Linked DNA regions of Homo sapiens: all the other regions are linked to region 2. Evidence: fine-mapped expression QTL. A gene starts in region 2. Each other region holds a variant in brackets. All regions are shown on one strand. Distances are between the middles of the regions. Region 1 overlaps UNK (unk zinc finger). Region 2 holds the start of UNK (unk zinc finger). Region 3 overlaps ITGB4 (integrin subunit beta 4).

What was found. PIP is the estimated chance that this variant, and not a neighbour inherited with it, causes the effect.
Region 1: its variant is fine-mapped to the expression of UNK in whole blood (TOPMed, PIP 0.99).
Region 3: its variant is fine-mapped to the expression of UNK in whole blood (INTERVAL, PIP above 0.99).

The regions. Positions count from the first base shown.
Region 1 is chr17:75,812,378-75,820,549 of GRCh38, reverse strand. UNK (unk zinc finger) reads right to left here. Exons shown (of 16, transcript NM_001080419.3): 4 at 7,965-8,095; 5 at 7,337-7,472; 6 at 6,672-6,789; 7 at 5,297-5,381; 8 at 3,638-3,780; 9 at 3,024-3,224; 10 at 2,382-2,447; 11 at 1,734-1,908; 12 at 765-866; 13 at 442-630. Among named protein-coding and RNA genes, the nearest start is that of UNC13D, 28 kb to the left of the region's middle. RefSeq lists enhancers at 3,147-3,646, 3,647-4,148, 4,933-5,432, 5,433-5,934. The variant A/G (reference allele first, on the strand shown) is at 3,233.
Region 2 is chr17:75,781,114-75,789,285 of GRCh38, reverse strand. It overlaps UNK (unk zinc finger), which reads right to left and starts at 4,480. Exons shown (of 16, transcript NM_001080419.3): 1 at 4,302-4,480. The coding sequence starts at 4,405. It overlaps MIR4738 (microRNA 4738), which reads left to right and starts at 4,679; the gene lies at 4,679-4,765. RefSeq lists enhancers at 3,230-3,807, 3,819-4,218, 3,808-4,386, 5,949-6,128 and a silencer at 4,279-4,418.
Region 3 is chr17:75,754,901-75,763,072 of GRCh38, reverse strand. It overlaps ITGB4 (integrin subunit beta 4), which reads right to left. Exons shown (of 40, transcript NM_000213.5): 35 at 7,223-7,372; 36 at 6,456-6,644; 37 at 6,214-6,369; 38 at 5,966-6,130; 39 at 5,763-5,873; 40 at 5,255-5,657. The coding sequence ends at 5,518. It overlaps GALK1 (galactokinase 1), which reads left to right. Exons shown (of 8, transcript NM_000154.2): 4 at 1-59; 5 at 188-369; 6 at 4,474-4,624; 7 at 4,701-4,863; 8 at 4,946-5,179. The coding sequence ends at 5,017. Among named protein-coding and RNA genes, the nearest start is that of GALK1, 6.2 kb to the left of the region's middle. RefSeq lists enhancers at 3,965-4,491, 4,492-5,018 and a silencer at 7,517-7,686. The variant C/T (reference allele first, on the strand shown) is at 4,325.

The DNA.
Region 1 (8,172 bases), 31 kb before region 2:
GGGGTTAACCTGTCTGGCTTCTCCCTTGGTCCCCTGTGAACCTGGCTGGTGCGAGCCAGCCTCTCGGAGCCTGGGGTGACTGGGCAGAACAGAACCATGCTGTGAAAGAGACCAGGCCCAGCCCTGGCAACTGAGACCCCTGCTCTCACCTGCACTGGCCTCGTGCCTAGCACTTCAGCCCCATTACTCCATTCAATGCTCACAACGTTAGGAGGTGGATGCTGCCGTTATACCCATTTCACAGCAGAGGAAACTAAGGCAGAGAGGCTCAATCACTTGTCCAGGGTCACACAGACAGGAATCTGACTCTGCCTCCTCGCCCAAGGCCTCTGCCCTAACCCCCAGCCTAGCTGATATGCCGTAGATGGGGTGGCCAGAGGCACCTCCTAAAGGCGCAGGTTCCTGCCCCAGTTCTCCTGAGTGAACCACTCCCTCTCTTACCCAAAGATCCATGTGATGCTGAGGTTCCCAAAAATGTGTTTTCCGACTGACTCAGGTGGCCCTGGGGCTGCTGCAGGAAATGCGAGGAGAGGCTGACGGGAGGGGACGGGGATGCTGAGTGGAAGGAGGCAGAGCTGCCCAAGGAGCCGGGGATGTTCACGGGTGCAGAGCTCTGCAGCAAGCTGCCGCCTGCAAGAGAGGCCCGGGGAGGACGGGCTGGGTGAGGGCAGCGGAAGCCAGGCGGGCCACACAGAGCAAGGGGCCTGAGCCAGGCAGGAACCCGAGGAGTCCTCCAGGCTGCCCTGCCCACCCACACCCAGTACCGATGGTGATGCTTCCTGGGTGGGGCACTGTGCTGTTATCGAAAGTCTTCTCCAGGGCGGCCACGCCAAACTCATTCAGGTCCAGGTCATCCAAAGCAGACTCTAGGGACAGAGAAGAGTGGGATGTGACCTCCCGAGGGACTATCTGACCCTGACCACCTCGTCTACTGCCCACGCTGCATCTTCACGCCCATGCTACGCTGGGTCCGTATTCTCCCAAGCCCCTGTGCCCTTCCTTCAGCTGCTTCCTATGCCAATCCTGACTCCTGACTTCTGACACCGTCTGCCAGTCATGTCCAACCCAAATGCCTCTCCTTTCTGAATCTTCTTTGATACTTCCAGGAGAAATCACATCCCCATCCAGGGTCCCTGCCTCGGACAAGGGTCTTGTCCCCTGATGTTACAACTCAAGGGTCTCAGCCCCGGGATCAGTGGGGGTGGGCGGGTCTCTGGGCACTCAGTGGCTGGTGTATAGCAGGTGCTTGACAAATGTCCACTGGGTGGGAAGTTTCCCTCTAGAGGGCAGGAGCAGCATGTTGTCATCTGTCTCCTCAGTGCCTGCCACAGGACCTGGCACAAAGCGGGCACCTAGAAATGAGTACTGAAAGAAAGGAGCACCAACTTCTAGCACCAGGGATTCTGAGAACGTCGTGCTGGCCATTCACTACACAAGGACACCAGTGAGATGAGTGGGGACTGAACAACACGTCTTGGGGTGAGACTGTACTCACCAAGGGGAAAAGGCACCTCTTTCTAATTTGCACAAAGGAGCTCTAAGGGTCAGTCCTGGCCCTACACCTTGGGGTCATTTCCCCTTTAGCTCAAAGGACTCAGAGTGCCCATCCCCTGATTTTCCGAAGACAGATGTCTAAGGGGTCTGGTGTGCTGATTTGAGACTCGCTTCAGAGACTGGGGGGTCTCTGACCCCAGACCCAGTCCTGGGCTTTCAAACAGAAATGGCCTAGTTACCTATGACTGACTCTACCGTGTCGCTGGTGGGGTAGAAGGGCAGAGCGTTTGCATTCATGCCGGGGACGCTGCTGGTGCCCACTGGGCTAGGGGGGGTAGCTGCCAGGCTGGAGGTGATACTAGAAGAGATGCTTGAGGTCAGGGGGCTGCCTGCGGGGAGGATGCCCAGCATGTCCTGCAACGAGAGAGGGAAGAGGAGAAGCAATGGTAGGCCTGCATACGGAGGCCAGGACGAGAGGCTGGAGAGGGGCTGGGGGCAAGGGAAATGGCCCGTGCTAGCTCTAGTCCGGGTGCCCCCATGCCCACATGGGCCCCGGCACACCCGACACCTTGTTGAGAGCATGGAGTTGGAGGTGCGGAGGCTGCCAGGCCCATTCGCCCCTACAGTCCTGTAGCAGGGAAGAGAGAAGCGAGTACAGGGCCTGGCAGAGTGCAGAGGCTCCAGGAACACCTTCTCCACTGAGTCTAGGAGGTGAGGGGCTCCAGGGCCTGACCCCCTACCCTCTCTGGATTTGTGGCTGGGACCCCACTTTAGTCCTGCCCTCAGCTTTTGGGAAAAGTGGTGCCTCCCACTCCCCGAAGCCTCCTGGGGTTCTGGGCCACTCCTGTCCACAGCAGAGGGGAGGAAGGGGGCTGAGAGCTCTATACCTGTTTGGGCTGAAGCAGAGGCTGCTCTTGACTCCTGGGCTCTAATGAGTGGGGTTTTAATTTGGCCTGAGAGAGAAAATTCAGGGAGTGGATGAATGTGGTGCTGGGGGGTCCCTGAGTCCATCTGACCCTGAGGCTGCAGGTACCAGGGGGCAGGTGGTGGCAGACATGCAACCCCTCTTCACATGCATGCACACACCCCCTTCTTCCTCCCCACCCCCTACTCCCTTCCCCTACCCTAAGCAGGGAGCTGCCCTTCTCCTCCCGGTGACACTAGGCCTCATGTAAGCCCAGAAGGTATCTCTCCAGGCCCAGTTAGGGACCCCTGTGTCCTGCTTCCCCAGGCCCTGTCTTTCCATGAAGGCAGTTCAGGGCAGCCGAAGGACCGCACCCAGGCGGGATCTGGCTCCTCTCCTAACCAGCTCTGCAGCCCAGGGGAGGCTATGCAGCCTCCCCAGCCTTCCTGTCTTCAGCTGCAAATGGGCTGACACTGCTCCCTCTGTTCAGTCCTGAAGAGGCCGAGGACAGTGGAGTCCTAGCTCCCAGTCATCCTCCCCGTAGCTGGACCAAGACACTCCTCCAAGATTCTCTTGCCCCACGCAGGAGAAGGCTAACCTCACTGCTGCCTCCCTCATCCCTTACCTGGCATTTGAAATTTTTCAGGTACTCGGCTCCCACCTGGTCTTCCCTCTCGAAGCCGGGAGCCTTCTTATAGCTGCCAGGGGCCAGGCCAGACTCCCCAGGGAAGACGATGCCCTCCAGGTTTGGGGGCTTCCTGATGGAGCCCGGTGGGGAGCCGCAGAGGTTAGACGGGCTGCCTAGGCTGCTGTTTCTACAGAGGAGCTGCGGAG[A/G]AGGAGGGGAGGGAGTGGGCCCGTGGGCACAGCGCAGGCTGGTGCGTGGCCCATCCTCCACCCTCTCCAGAGGGAGTCTTCAAGGGGCTCAGTTCCACTTTCATCTGCCAACGAGCAGCAGTGACCACTCGGGGAGCCCGAAGCTCACGAAGGAAAGGGGAGTGACCTCAGGCTTTGTCCCTGCCACCAGTCCTACAGGCTCATCAGCACAGGCTCTGGGGACTGCCCTACCCCACCCCCGGGCCTGGACTTTTGACGAAGAATGCTGAGATGGAAAAGACAGATCCCCCTGGCCTGAGGACAAATACCAGGATGGTCTCCCAAGCCCAGGCTGAAAGGGCCTAGGAGGCAAGTATTGGCTCTGTCAGGCATGGTGCCCACCCACTCCCCAGGATGGACACGTACGGCACTGAGGTCAGGGGCATGCGGGCTGGAGGGGCTCACAGGCACCGAGTCTCCGGCGGCAGATGGCATGTACAGGACAGGACCTGGCTGGGTGGGGCTGGACACAGCTGAGGAAGGCTGCAGGTCGTCACTCAGGGGTGGCTCTGCAAGAGTCAGGGGCAGGGGTCAGCAGGCCCCAGCCAGCTCTGTCCCTCCAAAAATGCTCCTGGGTCCCTTCCAAAGGAGACCACAAATCCCCCTGCACATAAAGGGAAGGTTCCTACGACATCTCTAGTAACACCATGTCTGTGCATTTACTGTGTGCCAGGCACTGTGCCAGCACTTTGCAGTAATTGTGAATCTTCATGGTGACCAGAAGATACCAGTAATATGGTCTCCATTTTATAAATAAGAAAACTGAGGCTCAGAGAGGTAAGGTAAACCCACCAAAGTGACAGAGCTAAAACACAGAGGAGCTGGGTCTTGAACGCTGATCTGTACAACTCCAAAGCCTGAATCACTTCCTTATGCCGTCTCAGCCAGGCGGTCCCAATGCCCATGGCCGGGGACCACCTCTGCATCAAGAATATGCTTCTCCCGCCCAGGGCCCTCGATTTATTTTCCATTCTCATCTCAGAGATAGGGCCTGAGCCTGGAAAGAGGTTAAGGAGACCCAGGGCAGTATCTTGGGGTGGAAAGAGGTGTTAACAGGTACAAACTGGAGCTCTGTCTCTGAGACTGGTGGCGGCCTACAGTATCATGCTGAGGATCCAGACCCACACTGTCCCACAAGGCAGCCGAAAGCCACATGTGGCTACTGAGCCCCTGAAACAGGCTGGTCTGAATGGAAATATCCCGTAGGCATTAAAATGCTATCAGATCTCATAGACTTAGTACAAAAAAAGGTGAAATGTCTTGATATTTTTGTATATTGATTATTGAAATAACCTTTTATGTTGGGCTAAATACAAATATGTTATTAAAATTAATTTAACAACATATTTTCCAATGTTTAATTCTTTTTTAATTTTTTTTTTTTTTTTTTTTTAAGACAGAGTCTCGCCCTGTTGCCCAGGCTGGAGTGCGGCGGCATGATCTCGGCTCACTGCAACCTCTGCTTCCTGGGTTCAAGTGATTCTCATGCCTCAGCCTCCCGAGTAGTTGGGATTACAGGCGTGTGCCACCATGCCCAGCTTATTTTCATATTTTGCTATTTTTGTTAACATGCTTAAATATTTTAACTTTAAAATGACATATGGGGATTGCACTATATTCTGACTGGCTAGCTCTGCTCTAGAGGCCTGAGCAGGACTCAGCAGAGAAGAGCTCCATGTTCCATTAGTGATGTCTGTCATGGGTATGACATGGGGTGGCTGGTGGGATTTGCCAAGTCAGCCATGGGAGGCACAGTGCCTCAACCCTCCCTGGAACCATGAGTGCTCAACCAGGCGGACAATCCCTGCAGTCTCTATCTCACTACTTTGGAAGCTCTAGGCCTTCAAGGCTACTTCCAGAAAGGTGGGGGAATGGAGCTTCCAGTGGGGACAAGGCCTGCTGCTGGCAGGCCAGAACTCCTGTGCAGGGCATACTGCCAGGGGCCATCCCCGGCCTAAGCCTGAGCTAGCCAGGCGAGGGAGGGGTGGGAGAGGGCACTGCCCCGGGGCAATGGGAACAGCATACGTTCTACGTGGGCAAAGGCGCAGAAGGGTCCTCGGGGACAGCTGCCCGACTGCTGCATGTCGTTGCACTTGGTGGACTTGTAGATCTGGAGGGCAGAGCACAGGCAAGTCAGGCTCAGGCCCTGAGGGAAGGCCGGGCAGGCTCCCCTTCCTCCAGCATGAGTGCGCTGGCTTAGTCATCTCTTGCCCTGTGTTCCCGGCCCCTCCCCTCCCCTCCACTATGTCTCTCCCTACCAGCTTCTTACTCAAACTCCTGAGGCAGCCCACCACCACTCCCCATTGTCACTGACAGCCTCCGTTCTGGGGCCACAGGTCCCACCAGCCCTCCCAAAGGGATCCCCCAGTGACTCTCCACTCACGGGCATGGCCAGGTCTGTGCCTCCAAGCGTGCCTCCTGGGCATTAAGGGAGCCACAATCTCAGGCAACTACCCCTGCCAATGTGAACCCTGTCAGGATACCCTGGGTTGTGACCTATATAAGTAACCTTCCACTCTGCTGTCTGCAGCTACATAAGGTAGTTTCTGTCCGCGTGTCTACCTCAGGGTGTCCTGGCTTCCATGGAACACCAAGGGCAGGGACTGCAGGTGCCTCTCTGAACCCCAGACAAGACCTAGGCACACAGATATGGCCCAGGCTACCTCTTGGGGCCAGAGGGCAAGGGAACTGTGTTAGGGAGGTTGCTGATAATCTAGGCCCTGATAGGAGACAGGGCAACAGGAAGGAGCTTACTTTTTTTCAATCCTTTTTTTTTTTTTTTTTTTTTTGATGGAGTCTCGCTCTGTCACCCAGGCTGGAGTGCAGTGGTGCGATCTTGGCTCACTGCAACTTCCGCCTCCCGGGTTCAAGCGATCCTCCCACCTCAGCCTCCCGAGTAGCTGGGGTTACAGGCGCTCACCACCAAATCTGGCTAATTTTTGTACATTTAGTAGAGATAGCATGTTGCAGGGTAGTCTCAAACTCCTGACCTCAAGTGATGCACCCACCTCGGCCTCCCAGAGTGCTGGAATTATAGGCATAAGCCACCGTGCCTGGCCCTATTTTTTCAATCCTGATGTCACTGGATTACAAGCACCATGAGTGGTGGAAAGCCCAGAGTGGCCAGGTCGCCACACTCCATCTACACCTGCCCTGTCAGGAGGCCTGGGGGACACAGAACTGGAAGCAGAGGGCTGCTTGGTGAGCGTGGGCTCAGAATAGGAGAAGATGCCAAATTCAGCATGCAGGGATCCTCTAGGCACTGCCAGGGGAGAGCTGGTGGCCACAAGTCCCTCTTCCAGGATGGCATCAGGATGGGTTCTGCCAACATCTCCACTGATCCTGCCTGCCTCTCTCCTTACTTCCCAAAGCCACCCCCCCACCCTGCTGTGGGGCCCACCTCGGGGTGGAACTGCTGCTCGGTGCGGGTGTGGCAGTACTGGCAGGCGTCTCCGTTCTCACACTTGCCAGGGTCTCCCCACTCATCCCCGTGCTTGACGTTTGGACATGGAGACGACCTGGCCAACAAGAGGGTGGGGTCAGATGGAGAAAGGAGAAGGTGAGATCGGAGCCTAGCAGGTGCCACCTGGACCCAGCCTCATAGGCATGAGCACAGAAATGGAAAAGACCAGCTGCAGAGTCAGGGCCTTGCTGGTGCCACAAGCCAAGCTCTTTCTCTGACCCAGCCTGGCCGAATCACCACAAAGGATACTGTTTGATTCCCCTCAGCCAGGCCCTCCCACTAGCCCAAGTAGGGTCAGGCTGGAGCTACAACCACACTGTCCACGCTGTGGCCTGGTCCTCATTCAACACATTCCCCTCAGGATCAGGAGCGGTGGAGCCTCAGAGACGGTCTGACCAGGGTCCTCATTCATGCAGGAGGTGAAGCTGGGCTCCTACTGTCCAGCTATCCTCACTATGCCCTCCCCTGGGCCCTGGGCTTGCGATCCTGTCATCCCCAGGACCAGCCTCCCCTCCTCCCGGAGAGCCAGTGGGAGCAGCCTCTGCCTGACCCCTTCCCTGCCACTCCTCCCTCCCGTGGCTGGCCTCCTGGGGCCTAAGGACCTGTATTTGTGCTTCCGGGGGCTCCGCCGCCGGTCCTTGCTGTTGTGGTAGTAGGGACAGGCATAGCCTTGGCGGCACAGCCGCGGGGGCTTCTTGCAAGGCTCCGTCTTATAGTTCCCCAGCACATAAGCAGTCTCTGCACAGGGGGCCAGAGGGCAGGGGTCAGGTGAGAGGAGCTGGAGCACCCCAAGACTAGCAGGACTGGAGTGGAGGGAAGGAGAAGCCACTGGGAAGGAGTTCAAGACAGGAGGCCCCTGCCAGATGTGAGTAGGGCCCCTCCTCCCAGGCCATGGGACAGCCCCAGGTGCAGCAAGGACAACAGATGCTGTCCATCAGAGAGACACTCACAGCTCACAGGGTGAAAGGGCACTCTTGCAGGGCGGAAAACATTTGCATGTGCGCTTATGTACGTGCCTGTGCACATGTGAAAGCCTGGAGGGATCTTGGGAACATGATGTGTCAGGGAAAACGCCCCTAGAGGCGCCTTTTGAATGGTGGGTGTAGGGTGGGATGCGGGCCAGGTCGGGGCCTCGGCTAGAGCAGGCAGTAGGTGGTGGTGAGCCAAATCCCCAGGGCAGCTATGAGCAGGATTATAGGGAGGGCGCGGCCGAGGTGTGGATGCCTGTACCTTGCCACCGAGGCTCCTCGCTGAGGATCTTTTCTATCATGGCATGGCTCGCAGCCCCAGCCGACTGGCCCTCTATGCTCCCCTCTACCGTGGTCTGGCCATTCTGCAAGGCCTCCATGGCCTGAAGCTCCCTGGGAGGAGAGGAAAGAACAGAGAGGGTGGAGAGGGGGCATGAGGGGGCAAGAACCAGAGTGCCAGCCCTCCACTG
Region 2 (8,172 bases):
ACTAAGTGCTAAGCAAATACTTGGAGCTGTACAATAAAGGAACTTCTGACATAACTGTTTTCTAAAAGGACTGGATTCCTAAGTCCAGCACAAGTGCCTGCTACACCAATTTGCTGAAAGGATTATTCCAAAGTTTCCCTTAAAGCAAGATTATTCAAGAGTTTAGAAAAAAAAAATCAACAAAATTATCCTTTAAACTATGTTATGAATAATCCTCTTGGTTTAGGAAAAGGAGGGCTCAAACTCTAAGAACTTTAATTTCAGCACAAGAATGAAGGGCAAGAAAGGGAAACCAATGGCAACATAATTTTTTGCTTTTAGTGTATTCAACTGTGTTTGCCAAGATTACTGTTATGGTGAGTGAGACTCAATTATCACACAAGTGTCTCTGGATTATTGCAAAGACTACAGCATGTTACCTAATTTCAAATAACATCAGGTATAAAACTATACAAAATTAATTAATGTATAAGAAAGTCCAGGTGAGGTGGCTCACACCTTCTCAGGCTCACGCCTTCCCATGCCACTGTACACCAGCCTGGGTGACAGAGCAAGATCCTGTCTCTTGCTCTGTCCAACCAACCTGGGTGACAAAAATAAATTTAAAAAAAAAATTAAAAATAAAAATAAAAGTGGCTGGGCGCGGTGGCTCACACCTGTAATCCCAGCACTTTGGGAGGCCGAGGCGGGCAGATCACGAGGTCAGGAGTTCAAGACCAGCCTGACCAACATGGTGAAACCCCATCTCTACTAAAAATACAACTAAATAAATAAATAAAAGTTTAAAAAGGTAAAAAATTTGACAGGCAGACGGGAACAGTGGCTCACGCCTGTAATCCCAGCAGTTTGGGAGGCCAAGGTGGGCGGATCACGAGGTTAGGAGTTCGAGATCAGCCTGGCCAACACAGTGAAACCCTGTCTCTACTAAAAATACAAAAATTAGCCAGCCATGGTGGCGTGTGCCTGCAGTCCCAGCTACTTAGGAAGCTGAAGCAGGAGAATTGCTTAAACCCGGGAGGTGGAGGTTGCAGTAAACTGAGATCACGCCACTGCACTCCAGCTTGGGCAACAGAGTGAGACTTTGTCTCCAAAAAAAAAAAAAAGAAAAAATTGACAGGCAAAAACTTACAAATATTCAAAAGGGGTCTATCTCTGTATTCAAAATGGGATCAATTATTATCAATGATCAATTATTATTCCACTCCGTATGTCCATGTGTACCCACTGTTTACCTCCCAAGCAGCTCAAATTTTCATTTAAAATCAAAATCAAAATGCTCCCGCCCCCTAACTCCCAAGGGCAATAAATGAATTCACCTTATGGGGGTGGAGGGAAGCAGGTATGGTGGTATGTGCCTGTAGTCCCAGCTACTCAGGAGGCTAAGGCAGGACTGCTTGAGCCCAGGAATTCAAGTCCACCTGGTTAACACAGAGAGATCACGTCTCTCTTTTTTTTTTTTTTTGGACCGAGTCTCACTCTGTCACCCAGGTTGGAGTGCAGTGGCACAATCTCTGCTCACTGCAACCTCTGCCTCCTGGGTTCAAGCGATTCTCCTGCCTCAGCCTCCTGAGTAGCTGGGACTGCAGGTGTGTGCCACCAGGCCTGACTAATTTTTTGTATTTTTAGTAGAGACGGGGTTTCCATGTTGGCCAGGTTGGTCTCGAACTCCTGACCTCAAGTGATCCACCCACCTCAGGCTCCCAAAGTGCTGGGATTACAGGTGTGAGCAACCGCACCCTGCCCATGTCTCTTTTAAGAAGAGGAAAAAAAAAAAAAAAGCTGGGTGTGGTGGCCTCCCAGCACTTTGGGAGGCCAAGGCCCAACAGTAGATTGCTTGCGCCTGCTCGATCACAGGAGTTCGAGACTAGGCTGGGCAACATGGCAAAATCACGTCTCTACAAAAAATACCAAAAAAATGTATCCAGGTGTGCCTGTAGTCCCAGCTACTCAGGAGACTGAGGTGGGAGGATCACTTGAGCCAGGGAGGTCGAGGCTACAGTGAGCTGAGATGGTGACACTGCACTATAGCCTGGATGACAGAGACCCTATCTTAAAAAAAAGAAAAAGAAAAATCAGAGCCAGCAAGTGTGCTGGTTCCATCATATGTGTCCTCATGCTCCCTGCACCTCAGCCCTAGGAGGACTAGGGGATGAAGTTTTCCAGGTCATCACAGCTTCTGAATGCTAGTAAGTCTAGCAAGAAAGACCACTGATTTCTATCTCTGATTTTTGGAAATACAAATATAAAAACACACATACATATGAACAGACAAAGAGATAAGAACACCTACAACCTCCCATCAAGCTTGGCTATTTCACCTACTCCTGTTGATTTCCTAAGACACCTCAAGAGCCAGGTCCCATTACTCTATACTTACCCACAAGGAATGGAAAGGCAGGCTTTTTTTTTGTTTTTGTTTCTGTTTTTTGAGACGGAGTTTTGCTCTTGTCGCTCAGGCTGGAGTGCAGTGGCACGATCTCGGCTCACTGCCACCTCCGCCTCCCGGGTTCAAGCGATTCTCCTGCCTCAGCCTCCTGAGTAGCTGGGATTACAGGCGCCCGCCAGCACACCCAGCTAATTTTTTGTATTTTTAGTAGAGACGGGGTTTTGCCATATTGGGCAGGCTGGTCTCTTCACTCCTGACCTCATGCGATCCGCCTCGGCCTCCCAAAATGCTGTGATTACAGGCGTGAGAGCTACCACGCCCGGCAGGAAAGACAGGTTTTAAACAAATGAGCATCAAGAGGACAAAGACTCAGATACTGACATTTAATCAGCTGTTCACTTGTTTCACCTGTCAATTCCAAAATAAGAAAGCCTTTCTATTACAGATTCCATAGTATGCTCAATGACAACACAACACAGAAACACAAGTTGCTGAAGCCAAGACTCTCGTGACTCAAAATGTGTTTATTTTGCTAAAAACAGTGATCTGAGCAACCAGAGATTATAAAGAAGTTCCAATTACGTGAAGTTTCCAGATTCGAAAATCAAGACTACACCATTCAACTCATCAGTAGTCTTTGAGCTAAGAACATCTCACCAAAATCAATGGAAAGACTGCGAAAGATCTCCAGTAAGAAAGGACCAGGAAAGCAATGTCCATATCAGAAAAGGAATGGTTAACGTGAGTCAGACTGTAGTCAAGAAGCTTAAATGATTTCAGCCAACAACAAAGAATCCCACAAAGAAACCATACACTTCCTATAACCAATGTTCCCCAACCCCAGAACAGTTTCCCAAGGTCTTCTATAACAAGAGTTCCTCCTGACTGGTTTGAGTTCTTTCTACTCCAACAGATGATTCTGTTCTTCGTTCACTGAACAACTTAAGAGCTGTTCAACCCCCCAGGTTCCAAAACCTCTCGCAGCTGGGGATCCTTTTAAACATGCACATCACTCAGGAGCCCATGGGGATGAGAGGCATTCACAGAGCATCAGGGAAAATGGAAAGCAACATTTTGCTTAACAGGAGAAACCGCCCCTTATTCATCTTTCTCCCACATCACCTAACTCTAGGGAATGCTTAACGTGGCTTGAAGGAAATGAAGACAGCGACCTAAAAGCACACAGATGCAAGACTTCCAGGAAGAGGTTTTCCCATCCTGCTGGACTCCTGTAGTGTCAGTATTTGGGGCTCCCTCTAATGCTACATTTCTGCTGAGCCTGCAGACATACTTGGAACCCATCACCTTCGGGCTCCCAGACTCAGGCTCCGCACAGCCCGCGAGGGAAACGGTCATGGGCACGCACGGACACGTTTCCATCTTTGCATGTTTATCTACGTCGACTGTGAATTCAAGCAAGTGTGGCCCTCGTGGACAACCTACGAGCCTTAGGGACACAAAAGGCTTCCTGCGCAAACTGCACGGAATCTCCTGACAGGACTTCACGTTAATCATCATTCATAGGTGGGTTCTGGGGCTGGACCCCACGGAACTCCTCTTGGTTGTGTCTTGGACTTCTCACTGCCCCAAAGGAGCCTACTACTGTGGTTTTATGGTCTGAGGAACAGTTAGGCCTCGAAGGCCTGGCCTAGGGAGAGTGCACTCTGCATCCCGAGCTCCCGCCTTCCCCACTCGGCGGCCGGGACCGAGTTTCCCGCCCCACAGCCCGACCAGAGGTTGGTGGCAGTTGGAGGCAGTTGGGACCGGCCCCAGCAGGTTGGAACCGGTCTGGGCCGGGCCGGAGGAGGAAGGGGGGGAGGAAGAGGCCGCCTCGCGCTCTCCCTGCGCGCGTGACTCACGCTGGCCGCTGACGTCAGGCGTGCGCGCGCGGCGGGGGGGGGGGGGCTCTACGTACGTGTAGTGCTGCGGTTTCTCGGGCTGTGCCTGCAGCACCTGAGCGGTAGCGGCCGGGGGCGCCGAGGAAGCTGCGGAGCCGCCGGGCCCGGGGCCCTTCGACATGGTCTTGTCTTCCTGCCTCTTCGCCGCTCCCCTTTTATTATTCAGTCTGCGCGGTCCGCGCCGAGGACCCAGTGCGCCTGCGCCGCGCCACGAGAACGTGAAGACCCCCCACACGGCAGCAGGGGTTGCTGGGAGTTGTGGTTCTATGTCCGGCTGGAATTTTACCGTCGGCAGAGGGTTGCTGGCAAAGCACAGGACCACAATACCCAGGGATCCTTGCTGCTAGTGTCCCGGATGCTGAGGGCCTGCGACGGCTTCTGGGAATTGCAGTCCGGTCGCATTTCTCCTTCTTACCAGCGCGTTTTCAGTTTCATAGGGAAGCCTTTCCATGAAACTGGAGCGCCTGGAGGAGAAGGGGCCCAGAGCTAGGGAGGCCCTAGCGATTTCTGCGAAAGAGTTCCAAGTATAATTTCACTGCCAACAGTGTCATAACTACTTTGCCTTTATACTTAGTACAGCTAGGTTCGGTTCTAATGCCAGCTCAGAGCAGTGCTCCAAGCAGGGCTTAAGAATCTGTGTTGTCGGTTCTTAGTTCTGGGCCCTGTGCTGCAGGCACCTGCAATCCGCCAGCAACCCCTTCATCCCTGCGGCGGGTCTAACCTAAGAGGCATTGAGAAAGCTTTGCTAAGGAGGAGGTACACCGCACGCTACAGTTCCCGCGCCTTTGCCGAGGCGCTTCATTTACCTTTGCCAAACTCGACACCTGGAACTCCACGACTTGTGTGCTTTCTCAGCCTGACACCTGGCCTGACCAACTTGTTTCCAGTACATTAAGGGCCAAGGACGAATTTAATCTCCGCCTAGAATAGTCTCTGAGGTACACTGACAAGTTGCCAGTGTTGAGAAGCATCACAGGGTCCAGAGGAAAGGCCTGGGTTTGAGTAGGGCGTGCCCGTATTTATCCACTCTAGTTTTCTTGTCTGGACGTCAGCCTTTTTACTTGGGACATTATCTTTCCCCTCTCTGCTTCCCACCAGTCAAGCAAAGTTCTTCACTTTATAAAATAAGCCAGATGCCCCAGACCTAGGCATTTGTTTCTGTGAGTTTTAGAATGTTCTCCGTAGATATTTTAACCGTTGTCATTTAATTTGGTTTTTCATATTGAATCTATTTCAAATCCACTGGTTTTGATTTATATTTTCTTAGATGGGATTATATTAACAAATGATTATCTCATTAAAGAAACACATTCCAAATAACCTTAGGGATGAAGGGTGGTGGGGCTAATGGAAAATCGTTAATGTTTGAGTGACACATACTTATTTTATTTAGCTCCAAGTTCCCTCACATCAGAAGCCACATCACAGAGTTGAGAAACTGGTTTTTCCTAAACAGGCTAAATCGTTTAGCCACTAGGGGCGTTTGAAAATGAAAAATTACAAAAGGACAAATAAAAGTTGTAGTATATTGCTTTAATCCTATGATTAAACGCAAGTTACTTGGTTTATGTTAGCCTCACAATACTCAAGTGTGATCTGACTGAAGAAATAGAGTTCACAGCACTGGATTTTAAATAATAGATGTATATCATGAGCTTCAGAATAAGTGTGTACTGGTGGAGTTGGGAGATGATATCATCCAAACTGCTTAATTTACAAAAGAGGAAACCGAAACCCAGAGAAGCTAAGTAACTTGCACAAAGTTACTCAGCAAGTTGGTAACAAGAGGAACTAGGACAGTAGCCTACAAGACTACATCACATTCACTGTTGGGTTTTGTTTGTTTTGTTTTCTTCTGCTTTTTTTCATTGTATAAACATTTTTTATTCTTCCTCATTTCCTGTGTTGCTTTTCCTCCGTTGTACCAATCTGGAAAAAGTGAAACATACCTGCATGACTACGAAGTAAGAGAGACAGCCTTTTTTTTTTTTTTTTTTTTTTTTTTTTGAGGCAGAGTCTTGCTCTGTTGCCCAGGCTGGAGTGCAGTGGTGTGATTTCGGCTCACTGCAACCTCTGCCTCCCAGGTTCAAGCAATTCTCCTGCCTCAGCCTCCTGAGTAGCTGGGATTACAGGTGTGTGCCACCACGCCCACCTGATTTTTGTAGTTTTAGTAGAGACGTGGTTTCACCATGTTGGTCAGGCTGGTCTCGAACTCCTGACCTCACGATCCACCCTCCTCAGCCTCCCAAGAGCTGGGATTACAGGCGTGAGCCACTGCGCCCGGACTCCTGTTTCCACGAATCATACTTAAATGGATAAATGTATATCCATACCTTTTTTCTCCGGGTGGCTTTAGTTTCTAATAATCAGCAAAGCTGGAAAGAAAATGACTGTCCATCCACACAAAGGCATGGAAATGACAGGATTCTGTATAACCTAGAAAAATCGTGAAACACAGCAGGGAGTGGTGGCTGAAGCCTGTAATCCCAGCACTTTGGGAGGCCGAGGTGGGCGGATCACAAGGTCAGGAGATCGAGACCATCTTGGCTAACATGGTGAAACCCTTGTCTCTACTAAAAATACAAAAAAATTAGCCAGGCGTGGTGGCGGGCGCCTGTAGTCCCAGCTACTCAGGAGGCTGAGGCAGGAGAATGGTGTGAACCTGGGAGGCGGAGCTTGCAGTGAGCCGAGATGGCGCCACTGCACTCCAGTCTAGGCGACAGAGCAAGACTCCATCTCAAAAAAAAAAAAAAAAAAAAAAATCGTGGAACACAAAGTGGGGGACCAATTTAGAAAGCCTATTCCTCTTCTAGGCCAAAGTCAAAAAAAAAAAAAAAAAAAAGATGACAAGTTATTTTTCTGTTTGCATCCCAGAGAATTTGACAGCCTCATATGTGTGTCTAAACAGTCCCCTGTTTCTTAACTTGACACAGGTTTGAGAATAAAGCATGAGAATCCACCTAGGTTTCTCTTCTCAGCATGGCATTAATAAAATCATGTAATTTTTCCCTACCTCAAATTTTGAGTCAAAGGCAGAAATCAAAGTTGGTTATCACAGTAAATTTAGGTATATGATGATTAAATACATAATGTGCACGTTAAGATTAAGAAGGCTGGCTGAGCGCGGTGGCTCACGCCTGTAATCCCAGCACTTTGGGAGGCGAGAGGCAGGCGGACCACGAGGTCCAGAGATCGAGACCATCTTGGCCAACATGGGAAACCCTGTCTCTACTAAAATACAAAAAATTAGCCGGGCATGGTGGCGCATGCCTACAATCCCAGCTACTTGGGAGGCTGAGGCAGGGGAATCGCTTGAACCCAGGAAGTGGAGGTTGCATGGAGCTGAGATCGCGCCACTGCACTCCAGCCTGGCAGCAGAGCAAGAGTCCGTCTCAAAAAAAAAAAAAAAAAAATTAAGAAGGCTGAAATAATAACAGGAATTTGATACCAGAGATTGAGATGAAGCTGAGCTAGTTTTTCAAAGTGTGCATTTTTTTCTCATTGTTTGATACTTGACCACTGGTGTGACAAGTCAATATTGAGGTATTTGTACTTACGTACTGTAATTCTCTGAAGGTCAGGCATGGTGGCTCATGCCTGTAATCCTAGCACTTTGGGAGGCTGGGGCAGAAGGATTGCTTGAGTCCAGGAGGTCAAAACTGCAGTGAGCCGTGGTCACTGCACCACTGCACTCTAGCATGGGTGACTGGGCAAGACCCCACTTCAAAAAAAAAAAAAATTACCGGCCAGGGGCGGTGGCCCATGCCTGTAATCCCAGCACTTTGGGAGGCCAAGGCGGGTGGATCACAAGGTCAGGAGATCAAGACCATCTTGGCTAACACGGTGAAACCCCGTCTCTACTAAAAATACAAAAAAATTAGCCGGGCG
Region 3 (8,172 bases), 26 kb after region 2:
ATGGACCAGTTCATCTCACTTATGGGACAGAAAGGCCACGCGCTGCTCATTGACTGCAGGTTGGGCTCGCTCCCCTCGTCCCCTCCCGCCCTGCACTCAGCAGCTCCTGGGTGGGAGTGTGCCCACTGCCTGGCGCAGCAAGCACACGCTTGGCCTCGTCATCTCCCCCATTGTAACTCCACCCCAGGTCCTTGGAGACCAGCCTGGTGCCACTCTCGGACCCCAAGCTGGCCGTGCTCATCACCAACTCTAATGTCCGCCACTCCCTGGCCTCCAGCGAGTACCCTGTGCGGCGGCGCCAATGTGAAGAAGTGGCCCGGGCGCTGGGCAAGGAAAGCCTCCGGGAGGTACAACTGGAAGAGCTAGAGGGTGAGAACTGCCAGGGTGCTCTATCCTGGAGGCGGCTGTGCTCCCTGCTGGCGCCTCAGTGTGGCCTTGACCCTGCCTGGGACCCCGATCTCCAGGGCCTTCTGCCATGCTCTCCCCAGTCCCTTCAAACACTGCGCACCCAGGGTTCCAATCTCAGCAGGGCTGCTTGAAATCCTAAAATGGTCTTATCTAATCAGAAAAATCATGTTTCCATTGTGGAAAATGTAGAAAAGTACAAAGTAGAAAATAATAAGCTATAAGGCCACTACCCAGAGATAGCCACTGCTGACATTTTCACGTTTCCTTTCAGTATTTTTCCACATCTGTCTTCAAAGCTGAGTATATGTAATATATCATCACTTTCCCCCCCCACCCCCTTTTTTTTAAGAGGCAGGGTCTCATTCTGTTGCCCAAGCTGGAGTGTAGTGGTGTGATCATAGCTTACTGCAAACTTGAACTCTTGAGCTCAAGGGATCCTCCCAGCTCAGCCTTCCAAGTAGCTGAGATTACAGGTGTGCCACCATGCCCGGCTAATTTTTATCTTTGTAAAGACGGTCTTGCAGTGTTGCCCAGGCTGATCCTGAACTCTGGCCTCAAGTGGTCCTCCTGCCTTGGCCTCCCAAAGTGTTGGGATTATAGGCATGAGCCACTGCGCCCAGCCCATTTGCCGTGTTTTTTTTTTGGACACAGAGTTTCGGTCTTGTCACCCATGCTGGAGTGCAATGGTGCGATCTCAGCTCACTGTAACCTCTGCCTCCCGGGTTCAAGTGATTCTCCTGCCTCAGCCTCCCGAGTAGCTGGGACTACAGGCGCCCGCCACTACGCCTGGCACATTTTTTATAGTTCTAGTAGAGACTGGGGTTTCACCATGTTGGCCAGGCTGGTCTCAAACGCCTGACCTCAGGTGATCCTCCCGCCTCAGCCTTCCAAAGTGCTGGGATTACAGGCGTGAGCCATAGTGCCGGTCTCTTTTTTTTTTTTTTTTAAACTAAACATAATCTCAGAACCCAGAACCCTATCTTATCTTATGCCATGAAAGGCATATCTCGGTGTGGCTCTTTTTTTTTTTTTTTCTTTTTTTTTTGGTGAGGTGGAGGCTTGCCCTGTTGCCCAGGCTGGAGTGCAGTGGCGCAATCTCGGCTCACTGCATCCTCCACCTCCTGGGTTCAAATGATTCTCCTGCCTTAGCTTCCTGAGTAGCTGGGATTACTGGCACCCACCACCACGCCCAGCCAATTTTTATATTTTTAGTAGAGACGGGGTTTCATGTTGGCCAGGCTGGTCTCGAACTCCTGATCTCGTGATCTGCCCGCCTCAGCCTCCCAATGTGCTAGGATTACATGTGTGAGCCACTGCACCTGGCCTCCGTGTGGCTCTTTAAAGCTCCACAATATTTTAGCATTCAGGTGCTCTGTCATTTACTTAACTATTTTCTGATACACCTCACACTGTGATTAACTTTTTTTATTTATCTTTTTTATTATTTATTTATTTATTTATTTGAGACAGAGTCTTGCTCTGTCACCCAGGCTGCAGTGCAGTGGCACGATCTCGGCTCACTGCAACCTCTGCCTCCCAGGTTCAAGTGATTCTCCTGCCTCAGCCTCCTGAGTAGCTAGGATTAGAGGCATGTGCCACCACACCTGGCTAATTTTTGTATTTTTAGTAGAGATGAGGTTTTACCATGTTGGTCGGGCTGGTCGTGAACTCCTGACCTGGTGATCTGCCCACCTCAGCCTCCCAAAGTACTGGGATGACAGGCATGAACCACTGTGCCTGGCCATCTTTTTTATTTTTTAAAGAGATGGGTTCTGCTAAGTTGCCCAGGCTGGACCTGAACTCTTGGGCTCAAGTAATCTTCTCACCTAGTCTCCTGGGTAGCTGCAACCAAAGGCACCCGGTTTATCTGCATTCTCTTTTTTTTCTTTGAGACTGAGTCTTGCTCTGTAGCCCAGGCTGGAGCGCAGTGGCGTGATCTCGGCTCACTGCAACCTCCGTCTTCAGGGTTCAAGCAATTCTCCTGCCTCAGCCTCTGGAGTGGCTGGGACTACAGGCGTGTGCCACCAGAGCGAGTTAATTTTTTTTTTTTTTTGTATTTTTAGTGGACACTGGGTTTCACTATATTGGCCAGGCTGGTCTTGGACTCCTGACCTCAAGTGATCCGCCTGCCTTGGCCTCCCAAAGTGCTGGGATTACAGGCACAGGCGTGAGCCACTACACCTGGCCTATCTGCATTCTCTTAATAGTTTCTTAGAAATGGATTCTTAGGAGTAGGATTACAGAGTCAAGAGACACAAGTATTGTAGGCTGGGTGCGGTGGCTCACGTCTGTGCCTGTAATCCCAGCACTTTAGGAGGCCAAGGTGGGCAGATTCATTGAGCTCAGGAATTCGAGACCAGCCTGGGCAACATGGCAAAACCCCATCTCTAAAGAAATACAAAAATTAGCCAGGTGTGGTGGTGTGTGCCTGTAGTCCTAGCTACTTAGGAGGCTGGGGTGGGAGGATCAATTGAGCCCAGGAGGTTGAGACTGCAGTGAGCTGTGATTGCACCATGGCACTCCAGCCTGGGCCTCAAAGTGAGATCCTGTCTCCAAAACAAAAAAGATACAAGTATCCTTAAGGCTCCTGCTACACATGGCCAGGAAGGTAGTCTATTGGACAGTTTTAAGGTCATTATCAATATTAGCTCATTTAATTCCCTCCAAAACTCTGTAAAGCACATTCTGCTACCATAGTTGTCATATTTTTGATGGGGGAATCTACAGTGAGAGGCAGTGCTGGGATCTGAACCCCATCTGGACAGATTAGCTCCAGGGCCCATGCTCTTGACTGGCTGGCCGTGCTGCCCACACTGAGTTGTTCCTTCCTGGCAGTGTAGGTGTGCCTATCTCAGGGACACTAGACAGCTCCGAGGGACCTCCCTGTCCTTTTCCTTTGTGAACTGTGTCACGTTCTCCAGAGCAGTGCTCAGACCTGCCCTGCCTGCTCTGTGCAGATGCCCTTGGCCAAGGTTTTCACACTGGAACAAGTTGGTCCCTCCTCCCCACCCCAGCCTGTCCTTGCCCCTCCTCCAGGTCTCCTTCTGCATAGGAGCAGCTCACCCTGCCTCCTCCAGAGTCCTGCCCTAGAAGCGCAATCCCTCTCCTTCCATCCCCTGCCTGGCTGCCTGGCTCCTTCCCTCAGCCTCCAAGACATGCTCAGTTTTCTTCCCTCCTAAAACACCACCCACTGTCTCATTTCCATTCATTTCTTTCTTTCTTTCTTTCTTTTTTTTTGAGAGGGAGCCTCACTCTGTCACCCAGGCTGAAGTGCAGTGGCATGATCTCCACTCACTGCAACCTCCGCCTCCCAGGTTCAAGCAATTCTCCTGCCTCAGCCTCCTGAGTAGCTGCGATTACAGGCGCCTGCCACGATGCCCGGCTAACTTTTGTATTTTTAGTAGAGACGGGGTTTCGCCATGTTGGCCAGGCTGGTCTCGAGCTCCTGACCTCAGGCAATCTGCCTGCCTCAGCTTCCCAAAGTGCTGGGATTACAGGTGTGAGCCACCGCGCCCACCCATTCATTTCTCAGTCCTTTGAATCTACTTGCCCCTCCATCCCGCCATGCCACCTACCCTAACAACCTTCCCCCTTAAACCTGCGGGTTTGGCCGGGCGCAGTACACTGAGTCAGTACTGGTACTGACCCAGGTACCCCTCCAGCCTCAGCTCCAGTCAGATGGGACAGCCTGCTGGTCCCTGGCTGCTTCTGCCCCCTCTTCTGGAGCCCCAGCCCTGGAGGCTCCATGTGGCTCAGCAGAACTTCTTCTCCTCCTGCTCTGTGGTGGCCTCTTGAGGGCAGCACTCACCTTGGAAAGCATGGAGTGTTTCAACCCTCACTGCTCCCTGAAGGACCAAGGTGTCCCATTTTACAGTCGGGGGAGGAGGCACTGTGATAAAGGGGCTCTTCAGACCCA[C/T]GTCTGAGAGAGCCAGGCTGCCCTGCCCCCGCGGCCTTCCACCCTTCACCGTCCAGCCAGGGCCACTGCCATCACCGCCTGCTGGTCCTCACAGGCGTCGGGGCCCCAGGCAGTGAGAAGGCGGCTGCTGACTCCTCTTTCCTCCCCAGCTGCCAGGGACCTGGTGAGCAAAGAGGGCTTCCGGCGGGCCCGGCACGTGGTGGGGGAGATTCGGCGCACGGCCCAGGCAGCGGCCGCCCTGAGACGTGGCGACTACAGAGCCTTTGGCCGCCTCATGGTGGAGAGCCACCGCTCACTCAGGTGAGGCCCTCTGGGCGCCCCGCTCCTGCCGGGCACAGGCCGGCCCAGGCCCACCCCTTCAATATCCTCTCTGCAGAGACGACTATGAGGTGAGCTGCCCAGAGCTGGACCAGCTGGTGGAGGCTGCGCTTGCTGTGCCTGGGGTTTATGGCAGCCGCATGACGGGCGGTGGCTTCGGTGGCTGCACGGTGACACTGCTGGAGGCCTCCGCTGCTCCCCACGCCATGCGGCACATCCAGGTGGGCGGGCACCAGGGCCTGGGCGGGCAGGAGCGGCAGCTTCCCGGGGCCCTGCCACTCACCCCCAGCCCGCCTCTTACAGGAGCACTACGGCGGGACTGCCACCTTCTACCTCTCTCAAGCAGCCGATGGAGCCAAGGTGCTGTGCTTGTGAGGCACCCCCAGGACAGCACACGGTGAGGGTGCGGGGCCTGCAGGCCAGTCCCACGGCTCTGTGCCCGGTGCCATCTTCCATATCCGGGTGCTCAATAAACTTGTGCCTCCAATGTGGTACCTGCCTCCTCTAGAGGTGGGTGTATGCTTGGGTGTCAGAGAATGGGGGATGTCAGAACCGCTCCCCTACCCTAGGGGAGCACCTCTCAGGCCCCAGAAGAATGGGCAAGGCAGGGCCTAGCAGTAGCAAAACCATTTATTAAGTGCAGAACAAAGGCTGGGTCCTTGTGCTGCTCCCAGCTCTTTGGTTACAAATAGGTTTGGGCCCACAGAGGACGGACCTTGCCCCCTTCATGCCTCCCAGGAGACACCTAGCCCCTGCTCTGTGCATGCGGGTGGGCTGGGCCCCCAGGGGTGCAAGGATGGAGTAGCTGAGGAGGCTCCGGGAGAGGAGTCGGGAGGACGCCTAGTGGGACGTGGCGGGGGTGGGGCAGGGTGCGGTCAAGTTTGGAAGAACTGTTGGTCCATGTGGGTGCTAAGGGTTCCGCTGGTGGTCAGTGTCCGGCTCACAAACTCCTGGGTCACATGCCGGGTGAGGGAGCCGCCTGCCTCCAGGTGCTGGGCCCCCAGGGTCAGCCCATCTGTGGAGGAGGAGGCATTAGATGACCTGGCTTGGGGTCTGCCCTTCTCCCTCTGCTAGCTCCCTGTCCCAGGAGAGCCGGGATCCCCTAGCCCTCAGTGCTCACCCACTAGGAAGGGCTCGGTGGCGCTGGTGTGGGTGGTGGTGATGCTGCTGTACTCGCTTTGCAGCGGGTGCTGGAAGAGCCCGGCACGGCTGCCCAGCTGCGGGAAGGGTCCTGGGGTGGGCAGATAGGCCAGTCAGAGGGTGGTGCCAGAAGGAGGCACGGCCCGAGGAGGGGTGGGGGTGAAGGAAAGGACAGGTGCCTACCTCCATCCTGGGACTCTATGGTGATGATGCCCTCGCGCTCTGGCCCGAAGCCCTCAGTGGTCCTGGCCTGCACCTTGAACTTGTAGGGCACGTTCTCGCTGAGGCCCGGCACGGTCAGCCGGCTCTCGGGGCTGTCTCCATCCACCCGGAATGCGGTGGCTGGCCCTGAGCAGGGAAGATGCCTTCAGCGTCTGCGGCCCCCTCTTTACCCCTCCCCTGGCCACTCCTGCCCCCGGGGTGGGCAGCACCTCCTCCTTGGGCCATCTCACAGGTCACCAGGTAGCCGACGATATCCCCATTGGGCCTCCGTGGCCGCTCCCAGCTCAGCTGCAGCGAGTCTGGGCTCAGGGCAGTGAACACCAGCGGGCCTGGGGCACTGGGAGTGCTCAAAGTGAAGGCGGAGCCTGGGGGCAGTAGAGGAAGAGCATCAGCCTGTGGGTGGGTGGTGGGCATGATGGGGGCAGCTCTGGGGCTGGGGGAGGCAACTCACCTGGCAGGGGACACAGTGGGCTCTGCGGGTGCACCTGGGATTCAATGGTGATGACACCCTCACGCTCTCGGCCCCAGCCTTCCTGGCTCTGGGCCCGCACGCGGAACACGTAGGAGTGGTTGGGCAGGAGGTCTTCCACCACCACCGAGGTCTGGGCAGGGTTGGGGATGTTGAGCCGATGCAGCTCACCTGGGGGGATCAGGTGGGGGCACACAGTAGTGCAGTGTTACTCCCACCCCTGGCCTGATCCTCCTCGTCCCTAAGCTGCCATCGAGACCTAGTTATCACCCACCCAGGACTAGCTGTGGTTTGGGTACAGGTTGGGTACAGTATGGTATGGCTGGTTGTTCAGATTGTGTACTATACAAGAGTGGAGCCTGTAATCCCACTCATGTTTAGGCAACATCCTGCATCCTGGTCATGCTGCTTTGAATGTGCCTGCCCAGGGAAGTGCCACTTCCTTGTTCCCCCAAAGGCATCTCAGGCCAGCAGAGGCCCTAGGATCCCAGCCCAAAGGGGCCTTGTTAGGCAAAACCTAGCAGAGAATGACCAGGAGAGAGGCCCAGGGAGGTGGGTGAGACCTCAGAAGAGGGGAGGCAAAGAAGTGGGGTGGAGAATGGGGTGGGAGACCCTCTCAGGCTGGATGGGGGCTTTAGCGCTCAAGGGACTTGGGTGGGTTCCTGACACAGCTGAGGTACCCTATGTGTCACACTGGGGCCAGGCCTTGCAGGGCTGCACCCCGCAGCCTGGCAGCCACCATGCCTCACCGCCGTTCAGCAGCTGGTACTCCACACTGTAGCCCTGCAGCGGCCGCTCGCACCGCGGCTCCTGCCAGCTCACTCTGAGAGATGTGGGCCCCAGGGCAGAGAACACCAGGCGGGTGGGCGTGTCGGGCACACCAGCAGTCAGGCGAGAGTCTGGGGACAGGAGGCCGCAGTCAGCCAGAGATGCAGGGGCTAGGGTCTCAGTGGGAGTCACAGTGCTGCCCCCTGACCTCCCTCCCTCAGCTGGCATGTCTACACTGACCGCTGGCTGGACAACTCACTCACCCTGCAACACCCTGTCCAGGCTGCCCAGCACCTACCGCACATCCTCCAGCAGGGTGCAGGCCCTGCTTGTGCCAAAAGAGAGTGAGCCCCGTGAGTCTGCCAGCCCCACCCCCTCAACTGCTCAGCTGGCCTGGCCCCTCTCCTGCCCCAGCCCCAGCCCCGCCCCCTGGGAGGGCAGAGGCAGAGTTAGGCATCAGCACTGATGGTAGGGCAGGTGGTTAGCGCCTGTGGGCAGGCGGGGGTCCTGTGGATGGAATGGAGGGGAAGCAGTGGGCACAGCTGGCGGCTGCTATGGTGGCTGGATGACAGATGGAGCAGGACAGCTGTGGAGACAGGATGGCCACCCCTGTACTACCTGGGCCCCAGGAGGGCGCTGCTGGCCTCCCAGCCAGGATTATAGAGTCTCGTGGGCCCCTGGAAGGGGGGAACCCTTTCATCTGAGCCCGACTCCGGGACCCCAGGGCCCAGGACAGCGGAAGCCTGCTCCTCCCGTGTTCCCAGATGGGAGGGAGGCCTAGGGCAGGACAAAACAAGAGTGAGAGGAGCAGGGAGTGTGCATGCATGTGTGTACGTGTGCGCATGCATGTCTGTGTACATGTGTGCATGCGTGTGCACGTGTGTGCGTGCATGTGTGCATGCGTGTGTGTATGTTGGAGAATGGGCGGTGG